Linked DNA regions of Homo sapiens: region 2 is linked to region 1. A link means that fine-mapping ties the variant in region 1 to the expression of a gene that starts in the linked region. Tissue or cell type: whole blood. Region 1 holds a variant in brackets; the other region holds the start of a gene. All regions are shown on one strand. Distances are between the middles of the regions.

Region 1 (8,103 bases):
AGTGAAACTGTTTCCTTGCTAAAAAAGCCAGCAGCAGAGAATATCCAGGGATTTTGTTAAATTCCTAAAGAAAGAACATGAGCAATGAAGTGACTTACCCATTGAGAATCCCCGAGATCAGCGAGAACTTCCAGAAAACTTGGGAATCCACAGAGAGGTTGAATGACTGAGTGTGGAAGCATCTCATGACTCAGCTATTCACTTGGCTGACCTGTGGGCTGCCGTAAGCGGGAGAATGAACGGGAAGAAATGCACAAGGGTGTAGGTAGGATGCTTCCTCCCCGATGCGTAAGGTCAACACTTTTCTTTGCAATTATAATACCAATCTGTGGAAAACAGACTCAACTTACAGAGGATGTATTGGCTTTACCTTCAACATTTCAGGGATGTCTTTAATTTGCAAGCCAGTCAGCTGAACTCACTTAATATATCAATAGAGAATAAGGACAGATGACATGAAATAATTGAGCAGGAAGAGAATTCTAAAAGTCATGGAATTAATTGCCTTGCTGTGTATTAGAAAAATGTCTAGATTATTCCAGGCTTATTCTGAAAAATGCCCAGAGAAAGAGAATCCATAATATAGACTCCTTCAAGCTACTTGTGTTTGAGCACCCTTTGTCAGGATGTTTTCCTCATTTCTCAGTTACACATCTCCTGCTGCACTTTAAACTTCCTTCCTCCTGTTTTGTCTTCTGCTGAAATGGATACTCAAGTGACCATGTTACCTAGAATAACTCATGCCAGAGTTCCTCAAATGTGATCTGCAGAACATCAGTCCTACGCAACTTTCCATGGAGAAAGAATCCCCAGGCACTATGTTTCAGAAATGCTGCCTCTTGGAGATGCACAATGCATCTGAACATGAAATTAAAGGCTCTGAGAAGTCCTGCAGCAGTAAAACTATTTCACTTCTTTAAACCAGTGTTTTTCAACTTCTTACATTTTTAAAAATTTTTACCACAGAATCTCCATCCCCCTTTTATAGTAATGTCTGCTCACATACCCCCAAAACTCATCCAACAAATACATTTTGGAAAACTCGAAGAGATCTGAAGCTTGTTGCAATGGATTTGAGTGCATGGACCCTCAGCCATGAAAGGTTTTTTCAGTTGGACCATTCTGTGGCTTCTTATCAACCTTCTTAAAGTTCTTCACACCCCTCTTGAGTTGTTCAGAAACGGAAGTGGTTTTGATAAGGCACTGAGTAATGTGATAAAACACATCCTCTTCCCTATAGTCCTTATAAGTCTTCTTAAATAGAAGTCTTTGAGAAAATAACAGTAAGAGTTGGTCTTATTTGTTAGGTTTAGAGCTACCTTGCTAGGAAATGTCCACAGCTCTGATGCACTCTGCCAGGCAAATGAGGTCGTCTGCATGGCTTTTGCCTTACACTGTAACAGCCAATTCCTATGCACGTTGTTAACCAAATCAAAAATTGTAACATGGATTTTTTTACGATCACTTTTCTAACTAAAACCTTTTGATGAAAACATTGATGATAACCTTTACTCACTATCCTATTTATGAAATCTTACTCACAATCTGAGAAAGATGCAAATACCAGCAGTGAGTTGTATGTAACCAGGTTTTCTCAGTATTCTTTTCCATCTTCCTAAACACTGTTTTCAAGTGTGACATTTGTCCTTTCTCCCAAGGCATTTTTGGTGCTGACACACCACAGTTGGACCTGGTTCCTCTGGTGCTTGGATTTCAGTCTCCTGGAAAGCTGTTTTCTTCTAGGTGTTTTTTGTTTGTTTGTTTTGTTTTGTTTTGTTTTGGTGCTGCTGAGGGCTCTTACCTCTGACCCTCCTCTGCTCATCTAGCAAGGCCTGAGGTTTGCTGTCTGCTCCTCACCAACTGGTCCAGGCTGAAATTCCTTCTTCCATGGTGTCCCTTCTGTGCTCAGAGGCAAAAGCAGAAAGGAGGGAATTGCTCTTGTCCTGTTGTTGCCTTTGTACCGATTCCTTTTCTGTACATCTTGAGCCATGAGGAAAAGTTTCTGGTATTAAAGCCACTAAAAGTCAGAAGAAGTGGACTGTGGGGTGGGTGAGGATTGCATCCAATTCTGGGTCTGTCACTAACCTGCTGTGTGACCCTACACATGTCACCTGCCTGGCCCTCAGCAAATGGTAGCCATTAGTATTGTTCTCCCACCAGAGTCTTCACTGTAAAGTGAGGTCATTGGATTCAACGACTGGGTTTCTGCTTGAAAATTCTGCGGATACCCAAGTGTATTAATCAGATGTGCAGCTGGCTGCCTGAAAACTTGACAGACTTTATTGCTTGGCTTTTGCCACTGGAGTGATCTTTGAAAAAGAGAGTTGGAGTTACTAGGTTTTCAACTTTATGTAGAATCACTGAATTTCAGAGCTCATATACTCCAGTCTATTATTTTACAAAGATCAGAACTTACATTTAAAAATATACTGAGTAGGTTGTAGCAAAGTTTTGAAAGAGAGACAATAGTTTTTATCTACTGTCAAGCAATGATAAACGTCTTCCTTCTTCTTCCTTTCTGCCTCTATTCCTTCCTCCCTCCTTCCTTTCCTCCTCTCCTCCCTCCTCCCTCTCTTTGCTTCCTTCCCTACGTCTTTTCCTCCCTCCTCCCCTCCATCGTCCCCTCTCTCTTCCCTCCTTCCTCCTTCTTTCCTTCTTTTCCTCCCTCCCTCTCTCCCTCGTTCTTTCCTTCCCTCCTTCTTTCCTTCCTTCCCTCCTTCCTTCCTTCCTTCCCTCCTTCCTTCCTTCCTTCCTTCCTCCTTCCTTCCTTCCCTCCTTCCTTCCTTTCTCTCGCCCTTCCCTCCTCCTTCCCTCCTTCCTTTCTATTTTTCTTAGATGAAGCCTATCCTAGTTATTAAGTGATTCCAGATCCTTCTTTATTTCGGTGTTGCAAAATAAACATTCCTTGGTTTTGGCCGTTTCAAGCACCTTGGCATTATGATGGGGAAAATGCTGGGCAAGAAAAGACATTTCTATATTAAGGAGAAGCAGGGGAGTGCAGCCCAGCAGGGATGCGAACCAGTATTCCCTGGGTCTCAGATTCCACACTAGAGGAAGAAGTCTGTAGAAAGGACAAAGGAAAGAAAGGTTGGTGTTACTCTCTGGTATCCTTAGACAAAGTAGAAGCTGGCTTCTTCCATTTCTGGGAGACAGCAGTGAGCAGCCCCAAGGGCAGGCATTCGATTGTAGTGCCTAGGTCACCTCACTGTGCCGCAAAGTGGCTCTGGGATGGAAAAGTGTCTAGCTCTGCCCTCACAGCTCTGCCCTGGGAAG[C/G]TTCCGAGCTGGGGCTTAGCCCTGCACAGCTCCACCAAGGTCCTGCTGCTTTTCGGTGTGTGTTCATCATTCTCATCCCTCTCAGCTTTCCTTCCTACTCTTAGTGCAGCCTCACGAAGCCTCACAGTCCCTGGACAGGGATAGGAAGCCTGTGTGGGCTCCTAATGTGCTGTTTGACCTTGAGTAAGTTGCTTCAATTGAACGCTTTATTTTCAGACTCTAAAAGGAATATCTGCTCATCATCGAAAATTACCCCAATTTAGAAAAGTATAAGGGAGAAAATAAAAATCCCATAACCCCCCCACCAGAGACACTCAGTGTTGGAACTCGGTTGTATTTCTCCCCCAGACTAACTTTGTCTATGTCTGTATCTGTATCTCTATAGAGACACTCAGTGTTGGAACTCGGTTGTATTTCTCCCCCAGACTAACTTTGTCTATGTCTGTATCTGTATCTCTATAGAGACACTCAGTGTTGGAACTTGGTTGTATTTCTCCCCCAGACTAACTTTGTCTATGTCTGTATCTGTATATCTATAGAGATCATTCAGCATTTCATCTGAAAAGCTTCATATTATGTCTCTAGTTTTCTCATGCAATTACTACATAGCCGTCATGGAGATGCAGCATTCTTTTGGTAACCCACTTCCTATTGGACGTTCAGGTTGCTTCTAATGAACGGTGCTACAACGAACACTTGTAGTGTAGATATTTGTTCACATTTATGACTCCTTCCTTGGCTATACTCCTAAAAGAGTCAAGAGATGTAAACAAAGTGAGCAATTAATTTTCTAGGTATCACCTTTCTCACCTATAGTAAAACAACAACAGAAACAACAATCACTGATAGCAGCGGACACTCACATAGCATCTTGTTTGCCAGGCATGTCTCTAAGGGCTTATGTGTACCAGCGCATTTAATCGTCCCAGTTGCCCCGTTATTATCTCCATTTCACAGAAGTAGCTTGCCCAGAGTCACACACAGCCAGTAAGTGGGGTGGTAGGATTTCAGCCTGGGCAGTCTGGCTCCAGAGTCGTGCTCTTATCTGCTAAACTAGTGTTGCCCCTGTGGGATGAAAGAGCTAAAATGAAGAATCCCTGGGGTCCTGTTACCTGGGAACATCGCTAATGTAGCATGGAATCCTGCAAATAATGCTAGAACGGAGTAATGCAGTTGCCTGATAAGAGTTCACCGGCTCCTGTCATCCTCTTCGTCCTCCCATTTGTGTGTTTGACGAGCTTGGGGTCTCTGTGTTTGTGAGTGCATGTGCATGGATATGCAAGTGTTTGTATAATTTTATGAATGGAACAGAGTCCGCAGTGTGTGAAGCAAGAAAGCCTGAACAATCTATTGACACAATAAAGCACTCATAATTGATGCTGTTAGTTATAGATAACTCATCATCGTTTCCTTTTTATCTTAAGGTTCCCAGGCACGTTGGCTGGGAAATGTGTCATTTTATAATTGGAGTTTCACCCCGGTGGAGCAGGAATAGGATGGGATTTGGCTGTCTACTGTAACCCCATCCCCCCAAAGCATGTCTGTACTTACCGTCTGAGGAGGGTGCTTCCCCTCCTTGAGCTGATTTGCCTGTGCTGTCCAGAAGCATTGCTGGATATGATTATCCAGTAGAAAAGGAGCTAATCGACAAACTTTTCACTGGCATAACGTGTCCACATTGCTCTTATTGCTCGCTAAATATAGAGGTTGCCAGGACCCCTTGAAATTTTGATTCAGAAGATCTGGGAGAAGCCTGAGAATATGCCTTTTTAAAAAACATGTGCTCTGAGTGATCACCTTCATGGATTTTGGGGAAGTCTTAGGTAGCAGGTCTCAACCTTCATAGGATATCAGCATCACCAGATTCTTTTGAAAAAAGTACCACTTCCTGTCCTTCTGCTCACTGCCTGCCCTAATTTGAATAACTGATCTAGGGTGGTTTCCAAGTTCAGGATTTAAAAAAAAAAAAGTCTCTAGAGGTTCTTGTGTGCAGCCATAGTTGGGTACCTCCAGCCCAAGAAGTTCTGCTGATAATATCGCACCTATACATTTAATTGCACTTCACATTTTACAACTCTCTTTCACCATTGAACATCGTAACAATTCACTAAGGTCAGTAAAGCAGGCATTATTATATTGTCCTTGGCCGAGAGAGGTTGACTGAATTGCCCGAGGCTGCACAGCTTCTCCCTCAGTCAGCAGCAGCTGTTCCCTACTTGGCTCATGGCCAGTCCTGCCAGTTCTTTTGGAAGGGGCAGCCTCCACTCCCCTGAGACTCACAGGATGAAATCAATTGCCTCTCCTAGTGCTGATGCTCGCGAGGCTCTTTCTTCCCCTTCTCAGCCACATCTTTTCTACTGCAGCCACTCTTCCTGCTCAGAGGGCCTCTCTCTGAAAGGTGCAGTTGCGTTCCCCTCCCATGCTCCATCCCACTTAACGGTTAGGTCATGGCACTGAGGGATGGACAGCTTGGAGCCTGGACAGTCCACATCCTCCACCGTGGTCTGAGGACAGAGACGTGCTGCCCCCCAGCTCCAGCCCCTTCGATGCCATCCTGCAGAAAGCACTGTGCACGCTGCATGGCAGGAGCCAGTAAAGTTCCACACCCCCATCCCAAATTCTCACATCCACCACCAAAGCTTCCTTCACCCCTGCATCCCACCGCGGATAACCTGAAAGCCCACCTGAGTCCTTCCTGGGAGGCGGCTGTGTGGGGCTGGAGCCCCCTGCAGTGGTGAGTCCCACTCCGGACACCTGGCCAATGGGAGCTTAACAAGGTGGCCAGCGAAAGAGAAACAGAACCCGGTAACGGCATCTGCCCCTTCCGCCATCCTCCACCCCGCAACCCGCTGCGGGCTCAAAATCTCTCCTCATTCAAACCGAGGACTTTTGTTTCTCTTTACTGTTCCTCTCCTTGTCCAGACCTTTTCCTTCACACAGGCTGTATCTTGGAGAGGCTCCCAGTGACTGTAGACTTCCTGTGTCAGAATCCTGCAGCCTCTGTCCCTGGGCTGCTTGGGCGGAGTGGGAGGCTGCGGGAGAAGGCGGGGTTTGCCTTGCAGGCAATGCGGGCAGGGGCGCTGCACCCAGGGAAGAGTTCCAAATGCTGATTCTCCCCATGGCCTTTACCTACCTACCTATTCAGCAGCCTTGCAACTGAGACGAAGCCACCCCCTAGCAGACTTTTGCAGGATATCGTTCACTTTCCTCTCTCAGGCCCTGCCCACCACGGGTTGTTGGTTTTGTGAGTTGGTGTGGGGGAGTCAGCAGGGTCCTCAGTGACTTTTGATCTTTCAGCGCTGACTTTCAGGAAAGGTAAGCTCTCTGCCAACAAAGCTGGTCTCCGCTGTGCCTCCTCCTCTTATACAACAACCCTAAGTGGCTTTCCTGCCAGGTGAGAGGATTTGCAAGGACTGCGGAGGAATATGGGACCGACGAGCTCTCCTTTCTCAAAACAGAGGGAGCCTTGGTGCAGATGCACAAAGTGGTCCTTGAAGTTGCATGTGGCCCGGAGCGGCTGGCTTGGTGGATCTTTACTGTTCTGGTTGGGCATTGTCAGGCAGCTATCAGAGGGCCCAAGAGTCCTTCACAATAACTCGTTATCACCCACAAGCAGCCAGCCAAGTTAGTACCTGCTTGACCCCGTCCTGCTGACAGTGGATTGGACCAGGGTTGAGCCTGAGAGCCAGCCAGCATGAGCCTCTTTCCTAGAAACCGTTAGTCAGGAAAAAAACGTTCTGGTTCAGTCTGGGCTAGCCTCTCTATGGGAGAGATGGAAAACCTCCCAGCCATGGGAGCTGGAAGGGGTCGGATCCATCCTCCAGCTCCGCTTTCTCCTTTTGTAAATGCCAAAAAGAATTGGGGTCCTGAGTGATGACTTGATTGGCCCAAGGCCACGTGGCTACTATGACTACTTTATAACAGAGCTGGATTTTGGAGTCCAGTGTGTTAATTCACTTACTCCCTTGGCTAAGACACGGAGCTTCTGAAAATAATCTCTTATGAGAGCTTCCATTCAGCTCAGACTTTGAAGAAATGATAGTTCTTGCATACTATATACAGAGAGAGCACAGGTCTCAGTATCAGACTGATCTGGGCTCAAACCCTGGCTCTCCGAGTCACTAGTATTGAGATCTTGGGCACATTTCTCATACACCTTGTGTTCCTCCAGTATAAAATGGGGATCACTCTGGTCTCACAGAAACATGGTGAGGGTGTTCTATTGAGTAGAAGATACGCTTAGCAAATACTCATTGCTAAATAAAACAAGGCTTCCTGGTCAAAATGAGTAATAGCTCTCTCCTTCCTAGTGCTCTGATTCTGAAGATGGTGTAGTTGTGGAATTATTTAGTGCCCTCATGTTTGTGGTTGGGACCAGAGAACAGGGGCCTTTCTTTTGCTTTTCTTCAGACCCCGAGAGCCTGGGTGTCATCAGTCAGCCCACGACCATCCCTTGTGGGCTTGGGAAAACTCAGACAGAGAGGGAAATGTGAGACTCTGGCAATGTGAAAAAAACAAGTACCTCTCTATTACTTATTTTCTAGTCTTGTGAAGTTTGTTCAACCTACAACCCAGCATTGATTCAAGGCCTCCTCTGTGACCCCACCCCAGCGGCAGTGCGCCCACTGGGTAAGATAAAGTGAGAGGTGCAGGGACGCACAGGTAGAAGGAGATCCTTCAGGCCTGGTCACATCTGAGGTTATGGGGCGGTGGCCTGATACTCCTGAGACAATACGCTTTTTGATACTCTTTTGAGGGTGGCTGCAGAGGACATTGGCTTGTACCTCTGGCCCCTCTGTTCATTCTTCACCTCATAGAATGAACATTTGC
Region 2 (8,103 bases), 110 kb before region 1:
CAGGCTGGAGTGCAATGGCACGATCATGGCTCGCTGCAGCTTCAACCTCCTGGGCTCAGGTGATCCTCCCACCTTAGCATCCTGGGTAGTTTGGGCCACAGGCATGTGCCACCATGCCTGGCTGATTTTTTTAAATTTTTTGTAGAGATGGGGTTTTACCGTGTTGCTCAGGCTGGTCTTGAACTCCTGGGCTCAAGTGATCTGCCTGCCTCAGCCTCCCAAAGTGCTGGGATTACAGGTGTGAGCCACCATGCCATGCCAATTTAAAAAAAAGTTTATTTTTTAGTAGAAACAGGGTCTCAGTATGTTGCCCAAGCTGCTCTCAAACTCCTGGGAATCAAGCCATCCTCCTCCTGCCTCAGCCTCCCAAAGTGCTGTGATTGCAGGCATGAGCCACCATGCCCGGCTGGTGTTGCTGTCTGTTGATAGGCTCTTCCAAGTTGAGATTTTCCTGGTTGTTGATATGACAAGTGATTTTCTATTGCATCTTGGCCATTCTGAATATAACTTTTTGAGACTCTGGATCCTATGTAAATCTGTTTTAGCAGGCCTTTCATACACTGTTCTGGTGGGGAGAGGGAGATTTCATCTCATCGCTGCCAGGTGGGAGAGGAAGCCCAGGTTCCATGCTTGGCCTCCACTGACACCTGGTGGGGAGGGCTGCCTCATTACTGATGGGTGAGGGAGGGAGTTCAGGTTCCCCACTAGCCCTCTGCTGACACCACACTGGCTGAAAAGGGGAGGGCCACTGTTCCTTTACTGATATCATGTGGGGACAATGACAAAAATGCCAGCTCCCCAAGAGACCTTCACTGACACACCCTGGAGGGGAAGGTGGGGGATGCAGGGGCAAACCCTCACAGCTGGGGTGAGGTTGGAAGTCTAGGCTCCCCACGAGGCCTCTGTGGATGTGGTGGGCATGGCACTGCAAGGTTTTCAGTGGCATTTGGCTGGAGTAGGGCAGTTGTTGTCTAAACATCTTCTGTCTTGCTAGGCTTCCCATTTCCTGTTTCTTTGGTTAGAGAAAGCAGCTTTTTCTTGGGGCTTCTATTGTCTCTGCCCATTGCATTTCCAAGTTGTTGACTGCTCCAGCATCCAGCAACTTGGAATCTATTTCCTACAATAGCTAGGATATCTGGAGATCTCTAGTCAGCCTGCCCTGTTCTCTCTACCTTTCAGAGTCTTCTTAGGTTTGTTTTACATATCATGTGTACTTTTTACTTGCCTTGATGGGAAGGAATAGAGAAGATAAATGTAGGTATTTCTTCTTGTCCCAGAAGCAGAAGGGTTATGCTTTTTTGTTTGTTTGTTTTTTGTAGTTGTTGTTGTTGTTGTTTGAGATGGAGTTTTGTTCTTGTTGCCCAGGCTGGAGTGCAGTGGCGCGATCTCGACTCACTGCAACCTCCGCCTCCTGGGTTCAAGCGATTTTCCTGCCTCTGCCTCCCAAGTCGCTCGGATTACAGGTGCCTGCCACCATGCCCAGCTAATTTTGTTATTTTTAGTAGAGATGGCGTTTCACCATGTTGGCCAGGCTGGTCTTGAACTCCTGACCTCAGGTGATCCACCTGCCTCGGCCTCCCAAAGTGCTGGGATTACAGGCGTGAGCCACTGCGCCTGGCTGGATCATGCGTTTCTTATGTTTTGAGTCTAATTTGCAAGTGGGAGGCTGGGAGACATTTTCTATCCCTGCGAAACAGAAGAAGTGATTCCTTTTCATTTTGTTCATTTTCATCCTGTTTTTCCTAAAGCCACATTACTTTCCTTTAATCCACATGTCCGCCTCAGCACATGTCACCATGTGCTGTGTTTGGGACGTAGTAAATAGTCCAAAGAGCCAGGCCGGGGTGGAAGCTGTGATTTTGACGGGATTGACAGTAGACTGAGAACTTTGAACTTTTAGCCTTGGGGAACAATTTTATGTGTTTATTCTACAATGATGATCACTGGTGATTTGTCCAAAACATATTATAAGTGTGAGGTGTGGAGGCAAAGGAGTTACTGGAAGCTGGGGCAGGGCAGAAGCCCAGTGTATGAAGTTGTGCAGAGGACAAGCAAAGGACAGAGACCAGTGAATCGGAGTCATCCCCTGAGGCTCAACCCCGGGCACCGCCTCCAGCTCTTCTCCACCTGCTTCTAGGCAGTGAAGTCCTAGGAACTAGCAAGAAAGTCTGTCCTTAAGTTTGTGGGACAAGCATTTGTTGCACACCTACTATGTCCAAAACCCTGTAGAGTTAGGTAAAAAGACATCTTAGATCCCAGCTCTCCAAAAAAGCAAGGATCTAAGTGTACAGAGACTTCTTGCTTCGTGATTTCTTCTTCATCCTATTTATCCCCTTCTTATACCCACAGGACCAGACCTCACATGCCCTATCAGAGTCTCCCAGGTGGTTTTTCCAGGGAGAGAGAACATTAAACATCAAACAAACATATATAGAGAAAAGCCTCTCACCCAGGCAGCCTGAGCTAGCTGCAGGAGCAAGCATTCTTCTGACTTCTGAGACAGTACAAGGTGTGTCCAGGTGACTTACCTGTCACTGGGCAGCTGCCATGCGCACTCCTCACACCTGACGCTGCTCAGGGAGAAGCCAGGCAGCTATAATAGTGTTCTTGGCCGGAGAACATCTGGCCTAGCAGGCAGGGTGTCATCTATGAAGCTGGGTGGAGAGAAAGCTGTTGGGGAAACCAGCCCCACACCACCCAGCGGATACCCCGAGTCCGGCGGAGACAAAGGAGTTAGAAAGAGACAGAACAAGCGTTTAAAAGGCAGGTCCAGGGGACCAGAGCGTTGGAGGCTTGCTCACGGCCCAGAGCTCTGGGCTCCACCCAATTTATTGGTTTACAAGCTCTTTGTTCTTAGGGCAGATGGGAAGGGGAGGAAGGGATGAGGAAAAGGATTAATCAGTGAGTCATTCGATAAGATGTGTAACAGTGGCGGTTTCTGTGAATTTCCTTGAGCAAAGGCGTGTGTCTAAACTACTTAAGATCTTTAATGACTGAAATGGGTGGGAGTGGGTTTCAGGAGGAGCCAAGATGTTTGATTATACTCCTCTGCTTCAAGGGAGTGTTATCTCCCTGAGCAACCTGTGGAAAGCCGCTGAGCAACCTGTGGAAAGCCGCTGAGCGGTTATCCTCTCGGGGCATAAAGACAAAGAAGGCAATAAGGAGACTTTGCTCCTCAGAGGCCACCCGTGGCTTCCCATGGGTGTCTCACACAGGGGAGACCAACTCAACTGGCACCTAGAACTCTCTTTCCCACAAAAGCTAGGCTGGTTCTGATTCTTAACCTGCTCCAGCAGTGACACACTCAGTCCCACAGGGAGTGGACGACCCCCAGGAAGAAGATGATGTTTTGGAGGAAACTCCCCAAAGCCCTCTTCATTGGGCTGACTCTGGCCATTGCTGTCAATCTCCTTCTGGTATTTTCTAGCAAGGGGACTTTACAAAACCTGTTTACGGGTGGTCTCCACAGGGAGCTTCCTTTACATCTGAATAAACGCTACGGGGCAGTGATAAAGAGACTCTCCCACTTGGAGGTGGAATTGCAGGATCTGAGTAAGTTTACAATGCTAACCTGGAAGGTGTGTGTGTGGGTGTGTGTGTTTGGGGCACTTAGGAAAAAGGGATATGGAAGGAAAAATGGGTGAGAGGTCACATTTTCATCTCAGTCGCTCATTGAAGCATCTGACACTGAATTCTGTGCCTTCAAATGGGAGATGGGTATTGAGAATGAAGTGAGTAGAAGTGGAAATTAGAGCAAGCAGTATGGGGGAGGTGAGCATGTGTGTGTGTATGCGTGTGTGGGCTTGTGCACATGCATTATCATTATATCTACATATGTGCAGGCAACGAGAAGAATAAGAATCCCAAGGGCCATAGACCTGTCCTTAGGCCTATTGAAGGGGTGGGTTGCACCTCCACACCTGTGGGTGTTTCTCGTTAGGTGGAACGAGAGACTTTGGAAGAGAAAAAGACACAGAAACAAAGTATGTAGAGAGAAATAAGGGGGCCCAGGGGACCAGCGTTCAGCATACGGAGGATCCCGCCAGCCTCTGAGTTCCCTTAGTATTTATTGATCATTCTTGGGTGTTTCTCGGAGAGGGGGATGTGTCAGGGTCATAGGATAATAGTGGAGAGAAGGTCAGCAGATAAACACGTGAACAAAGGTCTCTGCATCATAGACAAGGTAAAGAATTAAGTGCTGTGCTTTAGATATGCATACACATAAACATCTCAATGCCTTAAACAGCAGTATTGCTGCCCGCATGTCCCACCTCCAGCCCTAAGGCGGTTTTCTCCTATCTCAGTAGATGGAATATACAATCGGGTTTTACACCGAGACATTCCATTGCCCAGGGACGGGCAGGAGACAGATGCCTTCCTCTTGTCTCAACTGCAGAAAGGCGTTCCTTCCTCTTTTACTAATCCTCCTCAGCACAGACCCTTTACGGGTGTCGGGCTGGGGGACAGTCAGGTCTTTCCCTTCCCACGAGGCCATATTTCAGATGGTCACATGGGGAGAAACCTTGGACAATACCTGGCTTTCCTAGGCAGAGGTCCCTGTGGCCTTCCGCAGTGTTTTGTGTCCCTGGGTACTTGAGATTAGGGAGTGGTGATGACTCTTAACGAGCATGCTGCCTTCAAGCATCTGTTTAACAAAGCACATCTTGCATAGCCCTTAATCCATTTAACCCTGAGTCGACACAGCACATGTTTCAGGGAGCACGGGGTTGGGGGTACGGTTACAGATTAACAGCATCTCAAGGCAGAAGAATTTTTCTTAGTACAGAACAAAATGGAGTCTCCTATGTCTAGTTCTTTCTACACAGACACAGTAACAATCTGATCTCTCTTTCCTTTCCCCACGCCTATGTGTGGTAGGGGCTGTTGAAGAGAGGTGGCAATCTCTGGGGCAAGGGCCTCGCTTCCATTTTGCGGTGTGCTCCTTTCATGAACTAATGAGGGCTTTGTTAGAGGACCTAAGATCGAATCCTGATGTGCCATTGTGGTTGTGTGACTTTGAGCAAGTGCTTCTCTCTCTCAGCCTCAGGTTCCTGGTCTGTAAATGGAGATGATGATAACAATAGTGATAGTTATCAACCTGACCTAATAGGGTTGTGAAGTAGATGCAGAAGGTGATCTATAAACTGCTCTGTGCCAAATTTTAACCTCCTCATTTAAACTTAAGGGTAAGATTTCAACACATTCTGGGGTTTGTTTGTGATTCCGGCTCACCATGGAAGTCTAATGCCTCTGAATTTTATGTGCCTGTGCATCCAACTTCAGCAAGGGAAGCAGCAATTTCCCCCTGCTCCCAGGTAACAGGGATCAAATGCTGGAACCCCATAGGGAGGTGTTTTATGTGTGGGCAGGGATGTGACTGCCCAGGTGTGTGCACATGGGGCTGGAGTTGGGGAAAGTGTCTTTTAAAATGAGAACTGAGCATTGTCAGGGTTCAGGGTGAGGCTGGGAGATGGGTGGAAGGAAAGGCAGGAAGAGAAAAAGGAAGGGAGAGAAGAAATCAGGGAAAGAGCGAGGAGAGTGAGAAGGGAGATGAGAGAGGAGAAAAGAGCTGGGACAGGAAAGGAGCAGAGAAGTGAGGGAGTCCAGGGAGAGAGAGTGAAAGAGTTTGTATGGAGACAAGAAGAAAAGAAGGGAAAGTGTGATGGGAGAGAAGGAGAGAATAAAAGGAGAGAGGAGGAGTCCTAAGGCACCCATAGCACCTTCCACGTCCTCCTTCATAAGACTCATCATATTTTATTATGGTACAGTTTTATGGAAAGCAAGTTTCATAAGTGCTGTTTCCATGAACGTCTCATTCACTACTCATTTCTATTCATACATCGAAATTCCATAGATGAATAAATGAGTGGGTGTGTCTAGGAAAGAGAGAGAAAAAGACAGGCAGACAGGGATGAAGGGAAGAGTGATACGGGGCAAGAGAGTGGATGAAACAGAGGGAAGATCATCAGCTCCACAAGCCCTGGCTTACCTGGGTGGGTCGGACATTGCCCATGCAAATATGCTTGGTGCAGCTTCACCAGGAGGATGCCTGTGTACCTAGGGTGGTGACCCCAGCACCACCCTCACTATTTGGCAGAGCACCCAGACCACACCAGGACTGTCTCACCCATCCCCAAGGCTCATCACACTGGCTCAGCCTCCTCAAGCCGTAAAATGGCAGGAGTTCTACCCAAAGCCCTGCTATTCTTTCCATCAGCTAGGACACAATGTGCCATGAGGAGCCAGCCAGAGCCATCTGGTTTACTCCTCTTTCCTTTTTTGCAAAGATCTTTCTTGTTATTCTTGGTGCTCCCACATTTTATTCGCTCTGAAATGTTGTGATGTCAGAGACTCACTACCACCTGAGTTGAACCTCAAAAAGTCTTCTGGGCCCTGTTTCTAGATCACCAATGCTTTTTTTTTTTTTTTTTTTCCACAGAGCTTCCTATAACTAAAAGCCTGTTTAATTACCCTTCATCCTGTTTGCTCATTGCCTCCAGGATTCCAGGAAGATTTAAAAAAATCAGAAGTCGGCCGGGCGCGGTGGCTCACGCCTGTAATCCTAGCACTTTGGAAGGCCGAGGCGGGTGGATCACGAGGTCAGGAGATCGAGACCATCCTGGCTAACACGGTGAAACCCCGTCTCTAGAAAAATACAAAAAATTAGCTGGGCGTGGTGGCGGGCGCCTGTAGTCCCAGCTACTCGGGAAGCTGAGGCAGGAGAATGGCGTGAATCTGGGAGGTGGAGGTTGCAGTGAGCTGAGATCGTGCCACTGCACTCCAGCCCGGGTGACAGAGCGAGACTCCGTCTCAAAAAAAAAAAAAAAAAAAAAAAAAAATCAGAAGTCAATAAGGATACTTAGTTGAATCATGTAAGCTACCAAGAGCAAATGCAAACAATAATAATTATATCCCTATTGAGGGAGGGATCAATGACTCTAAGCCAGTTTTCTGGAACCTCCCTCAGGGTTCATAAAAGCCCCACTAGGGGAATGTCAATGGATGTGTCTGTTTTGGGGCTTGGAAAGTTTCAGTATAAGTTATGGGGATAACCTAGTGACACTGTATTCATACTACCGGATTGTGCATTTCCTCAAATTGACTTTAGGATGGCCAGGTCCAAACCAGCTCCCACTGATAGCCATGAGTGAAAGAGAAAATCAGATATCCCCCCAAGGAAGAACGCAGAGGAGCTCAGAGGTAGGAAGAACCCAGTACCACCCTGTGGCCCCTGTATGCTTAGGACAGAAAAGTATGAATAACCATAGTGTTCCATCTGGGACACTGTAAACAGTATGCTCTCACTTCTTTTTTCTACCTGAACAAGTATGCATGGTGTTCACATGAGCCTCCTTTGAGAGACCTACCATTTACTTTTTGCCCAAGTTTTTTCGACTATCCTCTTTTTGTCTTAACCACTTGAAGAGGTGATTCTCTTTCTCCTTTTCCTTCTTTTTGGGCCAGTCTTACGTCACTTTACAAACATGTTCTCCTCCCAGTCACAGGACTCCCCTGCTTCCCTCTTGGGGGCTGTATATGGATCTGAAATCCAGCACACACGTTCTGCTTGCCAAGCCATGTGCTGTGGCACGAGATGCATCTACCCGGAGAAAATTCACACGATGGGGCTGTCCCCTCACCAAGCTGCTGACCCTGAGTTGCAATCATTCAGAAAAAAAGGATGCCTTCTTCTAACTTGTAGAAAGATGCTGGACAGGCTACACGTGATCCTGTCAGTCTGGTTGAAGTTTAGTGTGGGCTTAAGGGAGGATTAGTAGAAACAAAGTAGATCCTATGTCAGAGTGCCTTGATCACCATGGTGGGATTTAGTGCTGAAGAATGTCATCATCACTAAACACTAAAATGGTTACTTTTTCTCTCTTTTTGCTGAGTTCACAGATTGAGCTTGAGGGAGTTCAAGGTGCATATGCTAAGATACTCCAGCACAAATCTTACTGGGTGGAAAGGTGAGGTAAATAATAGATGACGTCATGGATCCTGGAGGGCATCTTCTGCATAAAACATCCTCTGCCTGGGTCTATCACTATCTGTTCATTCTTTTGAGTTAAGGCAGTGTTTCCCGAATTAATGTGACAATTAGAT

What was found. PIP is the estimated chance that this variant, and not a neighbour inherited with it, causes the effect.
Region 2: it holds the start of GALNT8, and the variant in region 1 is fine-mapped to the expression of GALNT8 in whole blood (INTERVAL, PIP 0.99). The same link has a PIP of 0.9 or more in T cells.

The regions. Positions count from the first base shown.
Region 1 is chr12:4,824,473-4,832,575 of GRCh38, forward strand. KCNA6-AS1 (KCNA6 antisense RNA 1) reads right to left here and starts at 6,299. Exons shown (of 3, transcript NR_199077.1): 1 at 5,958-6,299. It also overlaps a transcript of KCNA6 not described here. RefSeq lists enhancers at 1-440, 4,938-5,127, 5,188-5,347, 5,777-6,278 and a silencer at 1,037-1,237. The variant C/G (reference allele first, on the strand shown) is at 3,274.
Region 2 is chr12:4,717,337-4,725,439 of GRCh38, forward strand. It overlaps GALNT8 (polypeptide N-acetylgalactosaminyltransferase 8), which reads left to right and starts at 3,064. Exons shown (of 11, transcript NM_017417.2): 1 at 3,064-3,552. The coding sequence starts at 3,342. It overlaps GAU1 (GALNT8 antisense upstream 1), which reads right to left and starts at 2,766. Exons shown (of 4, transcript NR_110112.1): 1 at 2,529-2,766. RefSeq lists enhancers at 2,185-3,180, 3,181-4,176, 4,177-5,172.